Homo sapiens: one gene and its partners. The protein of the gene in region 4 purifies or fractionates together with the protein of the main gene of each other region. This does not show direct contact. Each region holds a gene or a part of one and is shown on either strand. Other genes may lie near its edges.

Region 1 (3,926 bases), on a different chromosome or scaffold from region 4:
TCTAAGTAGCTTTAAAAAAAAGAAGGAAAAAAAAAAAAGCCTAAGCAAGAAGAAGCTCCCACCCAGACTAACCTTCAACATTAAGGGGAAAAAAAAAAAAACAAAAAACGAAAAGCACTACTCAGAGTAAAACATCTTAGGGAGCTTTAAAAAAAAGAAAAAGCAAGTAACTATAAGGCTAAAAGTTGTTACCTTCTATCCAAGACATAAAATGTATGTTTAATTCTTCTTAAAAGGATAGCTACCAACAAAACTAAACTTGTCTGGAAAGTAGGTTGTTTTTTCTAAAGGCATCAGAGCAGCAGAAATACAAAATAAAGAGATGTATTTTTTCTTTTTTAATCTTAAATAACATGAATAACACTTTTTTTATTTTTATTTTGTTGAGACGGAGTCTGGCTCTGTTGCCCAGGCTGGAGAGCAGTGGCCTGATCTAGGCTCACTGAAACCTACACTTCCTGGGATTCAAGCGATTCTTCTGCCTCAGCCTCCCGAGTAGTTGGGACTACAAGCACGCCCCACCACAGCCGGTTAATTTTTATACTTTCAGTAGAGACGGGGTTTCACCATATTGGCCAGGCTGGTCTTGAACTCCTGACCTCATGATCCGCCCGCCTAGGCCCCCCAAAGTGTCGGGATTACAGGCGTGAACCACCGTGCCCAGCCACATGAAGAATACTTTAAACATACAGATATTTTTCTTTTTTCAACCTTTTCCCATATATGGTCAATTTCATTACATCCATCTTATTTCCCACCTTCACCACAAACCATTTCCATCTTTGTGCCCAAAACTTTATTGTAGGAGTTAAAAAAACCCCTATTCAAGAGACCTATATTCTTCTACAAAACCTTCAAGTGTGTTCAGTCATTTTCACTGAAAGAGATCAACAGGGAAGTAGCTTGACACTGTCCCCCAGAAGTTCCTTTACCATGCCTCCACACCTCCCAAACTACTCCCTATTTTCACCTCCGAAAAACACTCAAATTTTCCACTAATGCAATCTGACCTAATGAATCAAAGCCTGCCCATCTCTTCTTCTACCCCTTTCTTTCAAGCAGAAAGCTCTAACCTTCAATAAGAGAATAATAAAGCAGAAGCAAGGAGGAGGCAAAACATGATTCTTTCCCTTCCAGTAACTAGCCATACCCCATTCCCCCAAATAAGCACTCCACAACTCTACCCTTTAAAATGGTTATCAAACATGGCCGGGTCCAGTGGCGCACGCCTGTAATCCCAGCACTTTGGGAGGCCAAGGCGAGCGGATCACCTGAAGTCAGGAGTTCGAGACCAGCCTCGCCAACAAGGCGAAACCCCATCTCTACTAAAAATACAAAAATTAGCTGGGCGTGGTGGCGCGCGCCGGTAGTTCCAGCTACTCGGGAGGCTGAGGCAGGAGAATCGCTTGAACCCGGGAGGCGGAGGTTGCAGTGAGCCGAAATCCAGCCACTGCACTCCAGCCTGGGAGACACAGCGAGACATTGTTTCAAAAAAAAAAGGTTATAAAACAAAATGTTGATACATCTGTTACCTCTTTCAAGCCTCCCAATAACATTTCTACTAACACCACCCAAAATATTTTTAAAAGACAGGTCTCTCATTCTTTTCGGTCCCTCATACTACACCCCAATTATCTTCAGGTGTCCTCTCAATCTTACAAAAACATTTACAAAACTGTCCTCTCAATGGCACAAGAATACTTACAAATCTCTTATTCTTTCTACCGCTCCTTTTATTCCTCCAACACCACCTGTATCTAAAAATCCCTACATACTGTTAGGTATACTCCTCCACCAATTAATGCTGCATACCAGTGTAGCCCTTTCAACCTTCAACTAAACTTACAGAAACCTCTTTTTTCCAACCTCTATGTATCTAAAAGTCATCAGTTCCCCTAGCACTATCAAGCCCTCAATAATACTTTAAAATCCCTTAATATCCTTGCTATCACACTTATCACCTCCCCAATAATTTCTAAAACCCTTCAATGCCCACACATCCTTTTCATCTACTCCATAGTATTTTTCAAATCCTTCAATATTCTTGATCCCTCAGAACTTACCAATAATCGCTATACAGTTTCAATGTCCCTGCTATCCGCTTCTGCCCTCATATTTCGAAAATGCCCTCGATATTTTGCTTCTAGACCTTTCAGTCCCGGAATAATAATGTTTATCAAACCCTTGATATTCTGCTATTCCCTTCGACATCTCAATATTCACATTTTAAAAATCCCTCAAGAGCCCCGTTACCTCTCTCTCAGTTCTCAAACAGCAATGTTTTAAATTCCCTCACGGCCCCTGCTACCCCTTCCAGCACCCCGATATTTGCGTTTGAAAAGCCTTCGCTGTCCTTGCCTGCCCCCCCAGTCCCCATATTCACGGCGCCTCTCCGTCCCCAGCGCTCCTCTCCCACCCTCACCCCCACCACAATGGTGATAGTACTACAGGGAAGGCGTCGCCGGGACCTCCCGGCCGCGGCCCCTCAGCGCCGCCCCCCACGCCACCTCCCCTCCCCCACGCCCCCGCGAGCCCCCAACGCCCACGTTCGCCGGCCCCGGCCCAGCCCGGCTCACTCACATCGGCTCCAGTAACTTGGCCAGCCAGGACTTGAGGGCATCCACATCCTCTATGAGCATGGTGCAGGGAAGGCGGGCTCGGCCGCCGCTCTTCTTCAGGCCTGCCGTGGGTCTCCACTACGCCGCCCCCTCACGTTCCCTTCACAGCTCCCGGTGCCCCAGCCCACCGGGCATCTTAGGAGACTTCAACCTACTCCCCCGGCCGGGGCCTAACAGGAACTAACCCAAGAGCCCTCACTCAACCTAGCCCGAAGGCTGAGGTGGGCGGGAGACAGTGCCGAGTGGCAGGCCTGAGAACCAGTAAGAGAGAGGGGGCCCTGAGGGCAAGACCAATGAAAAGGCTCGCTCGCCCCGCCGGCAGGCGGTACCCAGTCAGGGAGGAGAGATATAGCAAGGTAGGTGGAGAGCTTAAGTGAACTCCTGGTGCAAGATGGTATCTTGGAAAAGGTGCTTTGCCTCTTAAAGGGGCAGCGGCGCCTTTTTTTGACCACGCCGCCGCCCGCCGCGGAATACCGGTGTCTGCTGCTGGGAGTGCCTGGGGGAACCCGGCGAGCCCCTCAGCCTGGTTCCTTCCTCTCGTTTTTCTTGGAAACACACACTCGTGTCCCGAAATGACTCAGCTGTAGTAAATCTGCAACACAACGTGCAATACGTTCACGTTCGACACATTGCACAGAATGCAAAATTTTACTTTTTTTCTTTACACACTCATGTTGATTGGCACTCACGTTTGTATTTTCTGCTGCTCTGCTTTAATTACGCAGAATGTTTCTGACAACCATGCCTTGGAATCCAGTAATCGTCATTTTTAAAACGTGGCGCACGGATGTAAAAGGCTGAGGCCATTTCAATTTTGCTAGTACTATTAATAAATGTTGCTTTATTTAGGAAGAAAAATGACTCCAATAGTTTGTTTTTAATTATCTTTTCATTGTATATCTAAAATTCAGTGGTTGGGGGACGGGAAGGGAGAATTTTAATCAGCAAAGAAGGATTACAAAAAAATTTTTAAGACAAATTAGAAACTACTGAAATAGTCAACTTACTTTCTAGTAGGTGAGAAATTCTTTCTGGAGTTTTGAAATCACTGATTTAGCACTGATGTTAAAATGTTTACCCAATAACATATACTGAGTCCCTGCAATTGCCAGCACTGAGTAAGGCACTAGGAGTCCAATGCTGAGCAAAACAGAGCTTCTCCTCTTAAGATGATGAACAGTTTATGGGGTTATGCATTGTAATAACATTTTGAAAAATACCTAATGAGCACGCACCTCATATAAAAGAAATGGATCAACCTCAAATAAACAGACATCCTATATATACATAGAACAGGTATAGGCAAAC
Region 2 (2,821 bases), on a different chromosome or scaffold from region 4:
GAGGTGGATCATGTATTTAAGGGACGGAACTCATTTTGATTGATACTGACTCTAATTGTATTTATTTATGAAACAGAGTCTCGCTCTGTTGCTCAGGCTGGAGTGCAGTGGTGCAATATCGGCTCACTGCAACCTCCACCTCCCAGGTTCAAGAGATCCTCCTGCCTCAGCCTCCCGAGTAGCTGGGATTACAGGCATGTGCCATCACACCCGGCTAATTTTTGTATTTTTAGTAGAAACAGGGTTTCCCCATGTTGGCCAGGCACGGTCTTGAACTCCTGACCTCAGGTTATCTGCCTCGGCCTCCCCAAGTGCTGGGATTACAAGCGTGAGCCACCAAGCCCAGCCTAAACCGACTCTAATTTAAAAGGGCATGTACTATTCAAAGCTTTGAAACTTCTCAGGAGAAAACGAGGACCCGTCTCTATTTAGGGAGTCTGTCCTAAGAGATTCCCCATCCCCCCCGCCTGGAGCCAAGGATCAGAAAATGAGGCATCAGCGACTGACAGGACAAGGTTTATTGGGGGTCCTGGAAACACTGGGGAGAGGGACGAGGGGGCAAGGTCGAGGCTCACAGGGGCACCCCCTAGCCAAATGCCCCCTTCCCCTAGGGATTGGGAGGAAGACAGAGACAGACAAACCAACAGAGATGGAGAGAAAGACCAACGGATGCTACGGAGAGAGGGAAGGAAACCCCAGTGTCCACCACCTCCCACTCAGATGAGTTCACAGGATAAAGAATTGCGTGGACCGGTCCACACGCTACAGGAAAAGAGAGGAGTGTCCGCCCTATTCACTCTAAGGAAGGTGGCAGGCCACAGCCTAGACCAGCCCATTCCATGTGATGGGGGTGTGTGCACATAGATCAGTCCATTCTACTGGGCAAGGGGATTTCAGGCCAGTCTATTCTAGTGTTTGGGGCGGGGAAGATCGTTAGGGTCGATCCATTCCACAGTCGGGGAGGGGGGATTCGAGGGCAGGGGGCATCTACCCTGGTCCCTCTTTCAGCACAGGGAATGAAAAAGGGGAAAGGCAGATTTCGGCTATATCCATTTTCTGGGGTCACCAGTGACTCTGGTGGGTGGCATTTGGAGGGATCTAGGAAAATTCAGGGACATGCTCCCTCCACATTCTCCAGATCAAGGTCGTTAGGAATGATGGCTCTCAGGGAATGGGGCAGTCTTCCCTTGGTGGGGGTGGGTGCCCATCTTTTAGTATTAGGGCTCTCAAGATGAGAGGTACTTGTGGAGACCCATTGCTCACTGCAAAGTCCCCATGTCTTGGGGACTTACGGCTACCCACACTCATTCCAGGGACCTCAGGCTCAGGAGTCTCTCCCTAGATTTGGGCTCCCCTGCCCCAGCTAAGGACCCTGTTTGTTTGTGGTCCCCCAGCTCCGGGGCCTTTGTGGGTTTTTGGTGGCCCCCACCTCTCCAGTCAGGGTCCCCTCATTTCAGGGCCTGCGTCTGGATTTGGATTTGGAGGGCCGGGGCCTCACGCGCAGTCCCGAGGTCCCCTGGTCCAGGCCGAGTCCAGGAGGCTGGGTGGAGGGCAGGGCGCACGCAGCCTGGCAGTCAGTCCATGCCCCGGTGCAGCTTCAGGTGCCTGGAGAGGTTGCTGAGCGTGATGAAGCCCTTGCCGCAGATGTGGCAAGGGAAGGGCCGCTCGGTGCCGTGCAGCAGCCGGTGGCGCTTGAGGTAGCACTCGTGGCGGAAGAACTTGCCGCACTCCAGGCACGGGAACGGCTTCTCGCCAGTGTGCACCAGCACGTGCCGCTCCAGGTCTCGCGGTGAGCGGAACAGCTTCTCGCACTCGGAGCAGCCGAAGATCTTCTTGCCGCGGCCGGAGCCAGACGGGGGTTCCCCGGACGCCGGTTCCCTTTCCCGGGCGGCGGTCGCCGCCTCCTCCCCGCCGCCCTCACCGTGGCTGACCCGCCGGTGCTCCTCCAAGGCGGCCAGCGCCGCGTACAGAGCCCCGCAGTGGCCGCAGCCGTAGGTGGCCGGGCCCGAGTGGGCCTCCAGGTGACTGGCCAGGGCCGCGGCCGACGCAAAGAAGGTCCCGCAGTCGCACTGGTACAGGGTGTCTTCCGAGGGCTCGGCGGCCGCCGCAGGTGCAGGCGCCTCCCCACCGCCCTCGGGGAGCAGCCCCCCGAGCTTGGGCACGCCGCCCCCCGCGGGGCCCAGGAGCAGCCTGCGGTCCGAAGCCAGAGGAGCGTCGCCCGCCTCCGCAGCGGTGCCTTCGCCCGCCGTCTCGGGCCCTGCGCCTGGCCCCGCGGCCCAGGCCTGCGCTGGGGGCGCGCCCGGGCCCTGCAGGTCGTGCGTCAGCTTGTGCCGCTCCAGCAGCGCGGGCGCGTTGAAGTCGCGCTCGCAGCGCGGGCACTTGAAGGGCTTCACGTCGGTGTGCGCCGCCCAGTGGGCCGCCAGCTCGCGGCCGTGGTCGAAGCGCCGCGCGCAGGCGCCGCACGCAAATGGGGGCAAGGAGGCCGCGGCCGCAGCTGCCGCCTCTGCCAGCCCCCAGCTGCCCAGACCCGCGCCTGCCCCCTCGGGGCCCTCTCCGCCGCCGGCCCCTGAGCCCCCGCACACCGAGCAGGGCCCCACATTGCAGCAGACGGAGCAGGGCGCACTCAAGGCGGGCAGGCCAGGGCCGGGCTGCAGGGGAGAGGGGAGAACCCCACGGTGCTGGCGCTTGAGGTGGCGGCCCAGGCTGGAGCGTGAGGAGAAGCGGAGCTCGCAGACCAGGCAGCAGTAGGGTTTCTCACCAGTGTGGACGACCTAGGGGTGCGGGAGGAAGGGCACAACGTCAGGGCTGAGAACCTAGCCCG
Region 3 (3,500 bases), on a different chromosome or scaffold from region 4:
CACTGCAGCCTCAAACTCCTGGGCTCAAGAGATCCCCTTAACCCACCATAACCAGCCTGCTAATTCTTTTCTATGCATTTATCTAATTTTTGTACTTTTAGTAGAGACACGGTTTCACCATGGTGGCCAGGATGGTCTCGATCTCTTGACCTTGTGATCTGCCCGCCTCGGCCTCCCAAAGTGCTGGGATTACAGATGTGAGCCACCGCGCCCAGCCAATTTACATATTTTTAGAATTAGGAGCAATTAACATTGCTTACAACTTGGGAGGCCTAGGCAGGCAGATTGTTTGAGCCCAAGAGTTTGAGACAAGCCTGGGCAACAGGACAGAACTCGTCTCTACCAAAAAAAGATACAAAAATTACGTGGGCCTGGTGGTGCACATCTGCAGTCCCAGCCAGTTGGGCGGCTGAGGCAGGAGGATCACTTGAGCCCGGGAGGTCAAGGCTGTAGTTGAGCCAAGATCACGCCACTGCACTCCAGCCTAGGCAACAGTGACACCTATTTCAAAAAAACAAAAAGCATTGCTAATGAAGCGGAACATGCCGTGTTTTTATAAGAAGCTCCTCGGCTGGACACCCTTTCATTAAAAAACTCCCTTCTGACTCCCAGTGAGAACTGGCCTCCAAGCCTGAGGATAAATGGCATCATTTCCACAAACACACAAACTGATTTTTACTTTAAAAACTATCTTCTCTCTAAGCACGATTGGGGGCATGCGTTAATATAAAGGCTGACATCTCCTTATGGCAAAGAATCAAATGACAAACACGACTGCGGTCCCCGAGAACAGCGTCCCCCCAGAGCAGGCCCGCCGCGCACCCACCTTTCTTCCCAGCCTTGCATCTTCAGAACCTTCAAGGACTCGTTCAGGACCATCCGCATGAGCTTTGACACAGAAGGAGGTTGGCATTAGCAGAAGCCCAGCCCTACTTCGCCAGACCACCCATCCCCATGTACCACCATCCGCTGCAGGATAAAGTCATGGCCGTGGTGACCTCTGCCGGCCCCAGCACACAGCCGGCCCCCAGAGCTGCTGACAGACAGACGCTGGAGGACACACCACCAAGCCCTCAGAACCCTGGGCTGAGAACATGCCCTATCCCCGGCTCCAAGGCCCCAGCTGGCAGGAAGCAGGTGCATGGGGGGTCGGGGGTAATAGGGGACAGTCCTACGACTCCAGTCCATAAACCGGGGCTGAAACGGAACAGTCCGATTCATAAGGGAGAACCAGGAAAGAGGCACGGCTACCCCCACGGGCGGTGGAGCCCTCCGCAAAACCAGGTCTGAAACACGGCTGGTCCTCACCAAACCCCCCGCAACGGGCAGAATGTAGCTCACTTCCTCTGCGGTCCACTACACAGCGAAGGCCCTCCCGCCAAGCCTCACCCGTGAATCAACAATGCCATTTCCCTCCATGGGGCTCAACACCCTTCTGCAGTTGTCCCCCCTTTAGGCTACTGACCCAGCATGCCCACACGCCCAGAGTGGGGTCTGAGCTGCAGTCAGTAGCAGCAGAGGACACGCGGACCCCCAGGAGCCCCGATGACAGAGCACAGCCCAGCAGCCCGGACACTGTTCTTGCAGACACAGGAGGCCTATCCCCCACAACACCCTGCGGTGCCACCGAGGCTAGCCCTGACGCAAGGCTGTGCTGCTGGACTCAGCCACACAAGGGGCACCCAGAAACGAGCCATGGAAAGCAGCAGAACGCATCCATCCAGGGACCCAGCAGCCACATCTCAGCAAAACAGTAGGGTGGCCTCCCTGCAGAGCCCCATTGTCCCTAAGAGTCTGCACTCTGTCTGAGTGCATGGCCGGGCCCCTGGCCTGCCCTGGAGCCTCCTTCCTTCTTGAGCTCCAGGCCTTTCCCGCCCTGGTCTCCACTTCTAGAATCACTGGTATATATGCTGTCTGCACAATCCTGGCCCGAATCTGAGCTGGACACTGAAGCCAGAGTGGCAGATCAACATCTGTCCTCAGTGAGACCCGGACATGGCCCCTTTCAGTGTCCCCATTGGGTGACCGACTCCTACACAGTGACAATGTCCCTGTATCTCAGGCCTGCTCTAAGGTTACAATGACCACCACCTTAGTAACGAGACCTCATGGTTCAACAAGAGGGAAGGAGGGAAGGAGAGAAGCAGGTCCGGGCAGCAACACGCTGCACCTCTAAACCCCAGTGTTCCCCTGTATTCTCAGGGCAAATCAGTGCCCTGAACGGGGATACAATGAGGGAGGAGGGAAAGGAAGTCCCACACTGTGACCATCCATCCCAGCCTCGCAGGCTAAGCACTCCAGGGCTCATGCTAGGGCGTGACCGCAGCTCCTCTGCTGCGCCTCCAGACTCACTCTGCCTCTTTGACAAGGTAACAACGGTGTCACCATCGACTCTCACCAGGAGAGCAATCGTCACTTTCCTTCTCTGAACCAAAAGTTTGTGTGGTGTTTTAAGGGTCGAATTCCTTGCCCATTCAATGACCCTCAGAGACTGGACAAAGCTGCAGAGCCCTGGTCAGGGACCGCCCAGAGTCTCGGCTCCACCTCCCACCCCTGGCTTCAGGGTCGCACTGCCTCAGGTTGCCTCCCTGCCCAGGTGCCGCCTGTCTCGCTTGGCCAGGCACTGAGACCCGCGCTGCCCCCGCCCGCCGGCACCCTGGTGGCTGCCTCACCATGTAGAATTTATCCAGGCGCAGCCTGTCAATGCCCGTCCACTCGCGATTCATGGTCTGCCAGAAGGCCTGAAGGAACAGGTGCTCTGGAGAAGGAATAAGCCAGAAGAGAACCACTGAGGAGCACGAAGCCACTCTGGGGAGGGAGGTGAGAACATGGAGGAACCCGTTCTTTACATAGCTATAGATAAAAAATGCTGATGCCCAGGCCCTACCCCCAGAACTGGATCTTGCTGGACCAGGATCTGGACATGAGGATTTTTAGAGGCTCCTCAAGTGAGTCCTACAGACAGGCAGGGTAAGAACTTCTCAACTCCGGTCACCAGAGAACAGAGGAGTCAGAAAAATCAACTGCAGGAACCTCAGGACCATCAGGCGGAATTCAGTCCAATCTCTTGGTGACATTATCCTGGCTTTTCACTTTATTTTTAAAGTGTAAGATATTAGCCCATTAGGCTCGAAATGAGGGTTTTGGGTAAATGAGCTAATCCATGTTGAATACTTACACCAGCACTGCACACATGCTAAGCACCCACAGACACCAGCTGGCGCTCTCTTGCCCTTAGGCATTCCTTACTCTGGATTTGAGAACACAAACCTCCTGGGTCTGGTGGCTCTGATGCTCAGAGGTTCTGACATCTACAAATGCACCCAACTACAGCAGAGCATACTCACGCGCCTCCGTGGTCTGAAAAGCATGAACGAGCTGGGAAATAGTCCTTCCTAATTCTTCCTGTGTAGGAAACAACAAAAACGCCCTCAGCCCCTGAAGCACCAGGCTCTCACAATGACACACACGCAACCACCCACTCACCCACTCACTCACTC
Region 4 (3,500 bases):
TGACAGGGTGGATTTGTCCCAGAGCTGGAGATGAATTACCTGCATGGAAAACAGAGGAGTTACCAACTCCAGGGAAACAAAAGACATTACTGAGAAAAGAAAGGTAGGCCAGGTGTGGTGGCTCATGCCTGTTCTCCAATCACTTTGGGAGACCAAGGCAGGTGGATCATTTGAGGTCAGGAGTTCGAGACCAGCCTGGCCAATATGGTGAAACCCTGTCTTCACTGAAAATACAAAAATTAGCTGGGTGTGGTGGTGCATGCCTGTAATCTCAGCTACTTGAGAAGCTGAGGCAGGAGAATCACTTGAAACCAGGAGACAGAGGTTGCAGCGAGCTAAGATTGTGCCACTGCACTCCAGCCTGGGCCACAGAGTGAGACTCGGTCTCCCCCCCCAAAAAAAAAGAAAGAAAAAAAAAAGAAAGGAAAAGAAAGGTAATCATAGGACATGTACAGCAGCTCAGCTGTGGGCAATATTTATATTGTCATAAATAAATGAGCCATCTGAGTCAACAAATAAGGTGGAGATGTGGAATTATTCCTTCTGTAAAAGAGTTTACTCACTGTGAGAGCCATTAGACCATTGTCAGTGAGCAAAGGCAAAAACAGGCTTTCTAGGAGAGAGCAAGGAGAAGGGGAAGAACAAAACTGCAGAGGAGTTGACATTCTGGAGCAGAGCCGGCAGCCAGCAGGTCTATCTTGACTCCAACTGAAAACGCACCCCTCCTTCACCGGGGGCCGGGGGAGGGGAAGCTGCATGCATGCAGATAGTGACGTCCAAGTTAAGTTCTCACCTTAGAAAGTGGGGAATCAATCCAGAGCGTCTAAAATGGACAAGTCAAGGACCAGCAGGGGGAGTGGACCAGATTCTGAGCCACTTTGGGGATGAGCCTGGGGAAAGCCACAGGGCAGCCCTGCTTGGAACCCTGGGCTGTGAGTCATGGGGCTGGTACTCCTTGCTGTGTGACCTTGGGCACGACTTCTGCTCTTGGACACCCAGCGTCCTCCCCTGTAAGATGAGGATGCTGTTGCTTACTCACAGAATCACTGTGAGCAGCATATGCATGGCAGGTGCCTAGTATGGTATTGAGCACGTTAGTAAAGACAACCCCCTGAGCTGCTGCCCTTATTAATATTGCCATTTCTTATGATAAGGAGTGCTGTGCTGGACAAGGCCTACACCTGGATCGAGACAACAAAAATTTTAGGGGCCAATTCCTGTTGGCGTGAGCCAACTCCCTCTTTTCCTCCTTGGTGGGGAGGTGTCTGTGCAGGAGTGAAGGAGCAGGGTTGGGGCGATGGGTGGGCTCCTCATTCTTGCCCTTTACAATTTCACCAAGAAAACCTGTAGATGTGACTGAAAGAGAAGGAACAGTAAAAGCTTGGCAGATAGGAGGAATTTCTTATCAAGTTTTGTTTTTGTTTTTGTTTTTGTTTTTTTGGTTTTTTCGAGACGGAGTCTGGCACTGCCACCCAGGCTGGAGTGCAGTGGCACCATCTCGGCTCACTGCAAGCTCCACCTCCTGGGTTCACGTCATTCTCCTGCCTCAGCCTCCAGAGTAGCTGGCACTACAGGTGCCCACCACCACGCCTGGCTAATTTTTTTGTATTTTTAGTAGAGACAGGGTTTCACCGTGTTAGCCAGGATGGTCTCGATCTCCTGACCTCCTGATCCACCCGCCTCGGCCTCCCAAAGTGCTGGGATTACAGGCGTGAGCCACAGAGCCCGGCCTTTCTCATCCAGTCTTTCAAGCAAACACTGACTGCAAACTTGGGCTGGGGGCTATGAGTTGAGCTCACCAGTGGGGTAGGGGCAGGAGAGGATTCCAGCGTGCAGAGATAGGGTGTGTGCCCCGATAAGGCTGCAGCCTGAGACCTGAGGGATGTGCATGGGAATGGATGGTGACCTTACAACCTGGCTTCTGCTAACTGGGAAGGAGAAGGAGGAAGAAATGGAGGAGGAAAAGAAGGATGAGGAAGAGGAGGCAGAAGAGGAGAAGAAGGGAAAAAGAAGAGAGATGAGGAAGACAGGGAAGAGAAGGAGAGAAGGAAGGAGGAGGAGGAAAAGATGGCTTTTGGTTTCTGTGAGCTGTATATGCTTTTTCCCCGGGCTATTTTGAAATACTGAAAATGGCTCTAAGACCCCCCTGCCTGCTCCCACCTCCACTCAGAATGAACCTTCAGAGATGTTCAAGGTTGAGAGTCCACCATCTCCATGCCTTTTTTTTTTTTTTTTTTTTTTGAGATGGAGTTTCACTCTTGTTCCCCAGGCTGGAGTGCAGTGGTGAGATCTCGGCTCACTGCAACCTCTGCCTTCCGAGTTCAAGCAATTCTTCTGCCTCAGCCTCCCAAGTAGCTGGGATTACAGGTGTGTGCCCCTACACCCGGCTAATTTTTGTATTTTTAGTAGATGAGGTTTCTCCATGTTGGTCAGGCTGATCTCGAACCCCTGACCTCAGGTGATCTGCCTGCCTCAGCCTCCCAAAGTGCTGGGATTACAGGCGTGAGCCACCACGCCCGGCCTCCCATGCTGGTTCTAAAGGAAGAAGAACTTAGTTAGGTCCTGGGAAAACTGGTCAAGTCACCTTCTCAGTTTTCTGTTTGTGAAATGGGGACAGCCACTTCTACCCATCATAATTTTCACCTCCTGCCAGCTCATGTTGAAAACGGATTCGCCATGGTTCAGTGACCCAGAGTGTGCCGGAGTGAAGTGCCCGTGGTGGGGAAAGCACGGCTGAGTCATCTTGGGAAGGACTCTGGCTGTGCACAACCTCAGTTTTCCTGACCTGTAAAATGGACACTCTAGACTTTCTTTTGTAGATCTTCTCAAGGGTGTGTACATGACAAGCATGTAACTGGCCCAAGACATGGCTGCTGCTACTGGTATAATAACTACCAGTAGTGATATAAATAGTATGAAATATAATGGGTTAATAGTTATCATTTTATAATAATTTATAATAATGTAAAATAATTTTAATATTAGTGATAATTAACATTTTCTTTTGTAGAGACAGGGTCTTGCTCTGTCTCTACAAAATTACAGTGGTGCAATCATAGCTCACTGCAGCCTTGAACTCCTGGGTTCAAGTGATTCTTTCCCCTCAGCTTCCCAATTAGCTAAGACAACAGCTGTGAGCCCCTGTGCCCAGCCAATGATAATCATTAATAATGATAGTAGCATCAAATTAGTGCTCTGGGCTGGGGGAACTACCCCCAGAACCTGAACTCCCAGAACCCACTGCTGGGTGACATTTCTTGTTGGTAATGTGACATTTCAGGGTATAGCCATTCTGCCTCCCCGTACTGTCTCATTTGTCTCTGAATCCAGTGCCTTCCAAGATAGCAGGCACACAGCAGGTGCTGGATAAATGCTAATCAGTAGCTGGATATAGTTGTACTCAGTAAAGACTTGCGGAAGGAAAAGCAAGCCGCATTCTTGCACTGTGCTGATAGACAGCTGGGCAGGGATCATACTGAGTTTCAGCAGCAGCTCCCTCC

What was found.
Region 1: the proteins of TNFRSF13B (region 4) and RBM27 purify together in Homo sapiens (co-immunoprecipitation; 3 studies listed by BioGRID and IntAct, with this or other methods). This does not show direct contact.
Region 2: the proteins of TNFRSF13B (region 4) and FIZ1 purify together in Homo sapiens (co-immunoprecipitation; 3 studies listed by BioGRID and IntAct, with this or other methods). This does not show direct contact.
Region 3: the proteins of TNFRSF13B (region 4) and RRP1 purify together in Homo sapiens (co-immunoprecipitation; 3 studies listed by BioGRID and IntAct, with this or other methods). This does not show direct contact.

Annotation. Positions count from the first base shown.
Region 1 is NC_000005.10:146,202,479-146,206,404, reverse strand, and holds the start of RBM27 (RNA-binding protein 27), read right to left. Parts: upstream 2,801-3,926; 5' UTR 2,640-2,800; coding exon 2,581-2,639; intron 1-2,580. Other genes in the region: RBM27-POU4F3, read right to left, coding at 2,581-2,639. UniProt on the Homo sapiens protein: May be involved in the turnover of nuclear polyadenylated (pA+) RNA.
Region 2 is NC_000019.10:55,590,876-55,593,696, forward strand, and holds the end of FIZ1 (flt3-interacting zinc finger protein 1), read right to left. Parts: intron 2,772-2,821; coding exon 1,575-2,771; 3' UTR 501-1,574; downstream 1-500. UniProt on the Homo sapiens protein: May be a transcriptional repressor of NRL function in photoreceptors. Does not repress CRX-mediated transactivation.
Region 3 is NC_000021.9:43,792,577-43,796,076, reverse strand, and holds part of RRP1 (ribosomal RNA processing protein 1 homolog A), read right to left. Parts: intron 3,406-3,500; coding exon 3,348-3,405; intron 2,759-3,347; coding exon 2,673-2,758; intron 889-2,672; coding exon 827-888; intron 1-826. UniProt on the Homo sapiens protein: Plays a critical role in the generation of 28S rRNA.
Region 4 is NC_000017.11:16,962,119-16,965,618, forward strand, and holds part of TNFRSF13B (tumor necrosis factor receptor superfamily member 13B), read right to left. Parts: intron 1-3,500. UniProt on the Homo sapiens protein: Receptor for TNFSF13/APRIL and TNFSF13B/TALL1/BAFF/BLYS that binds both ligands with similar high affinity. Mediates calcineurin-dependent activation of NF-AT, as well as activation of NF-kappa-B and AP-1.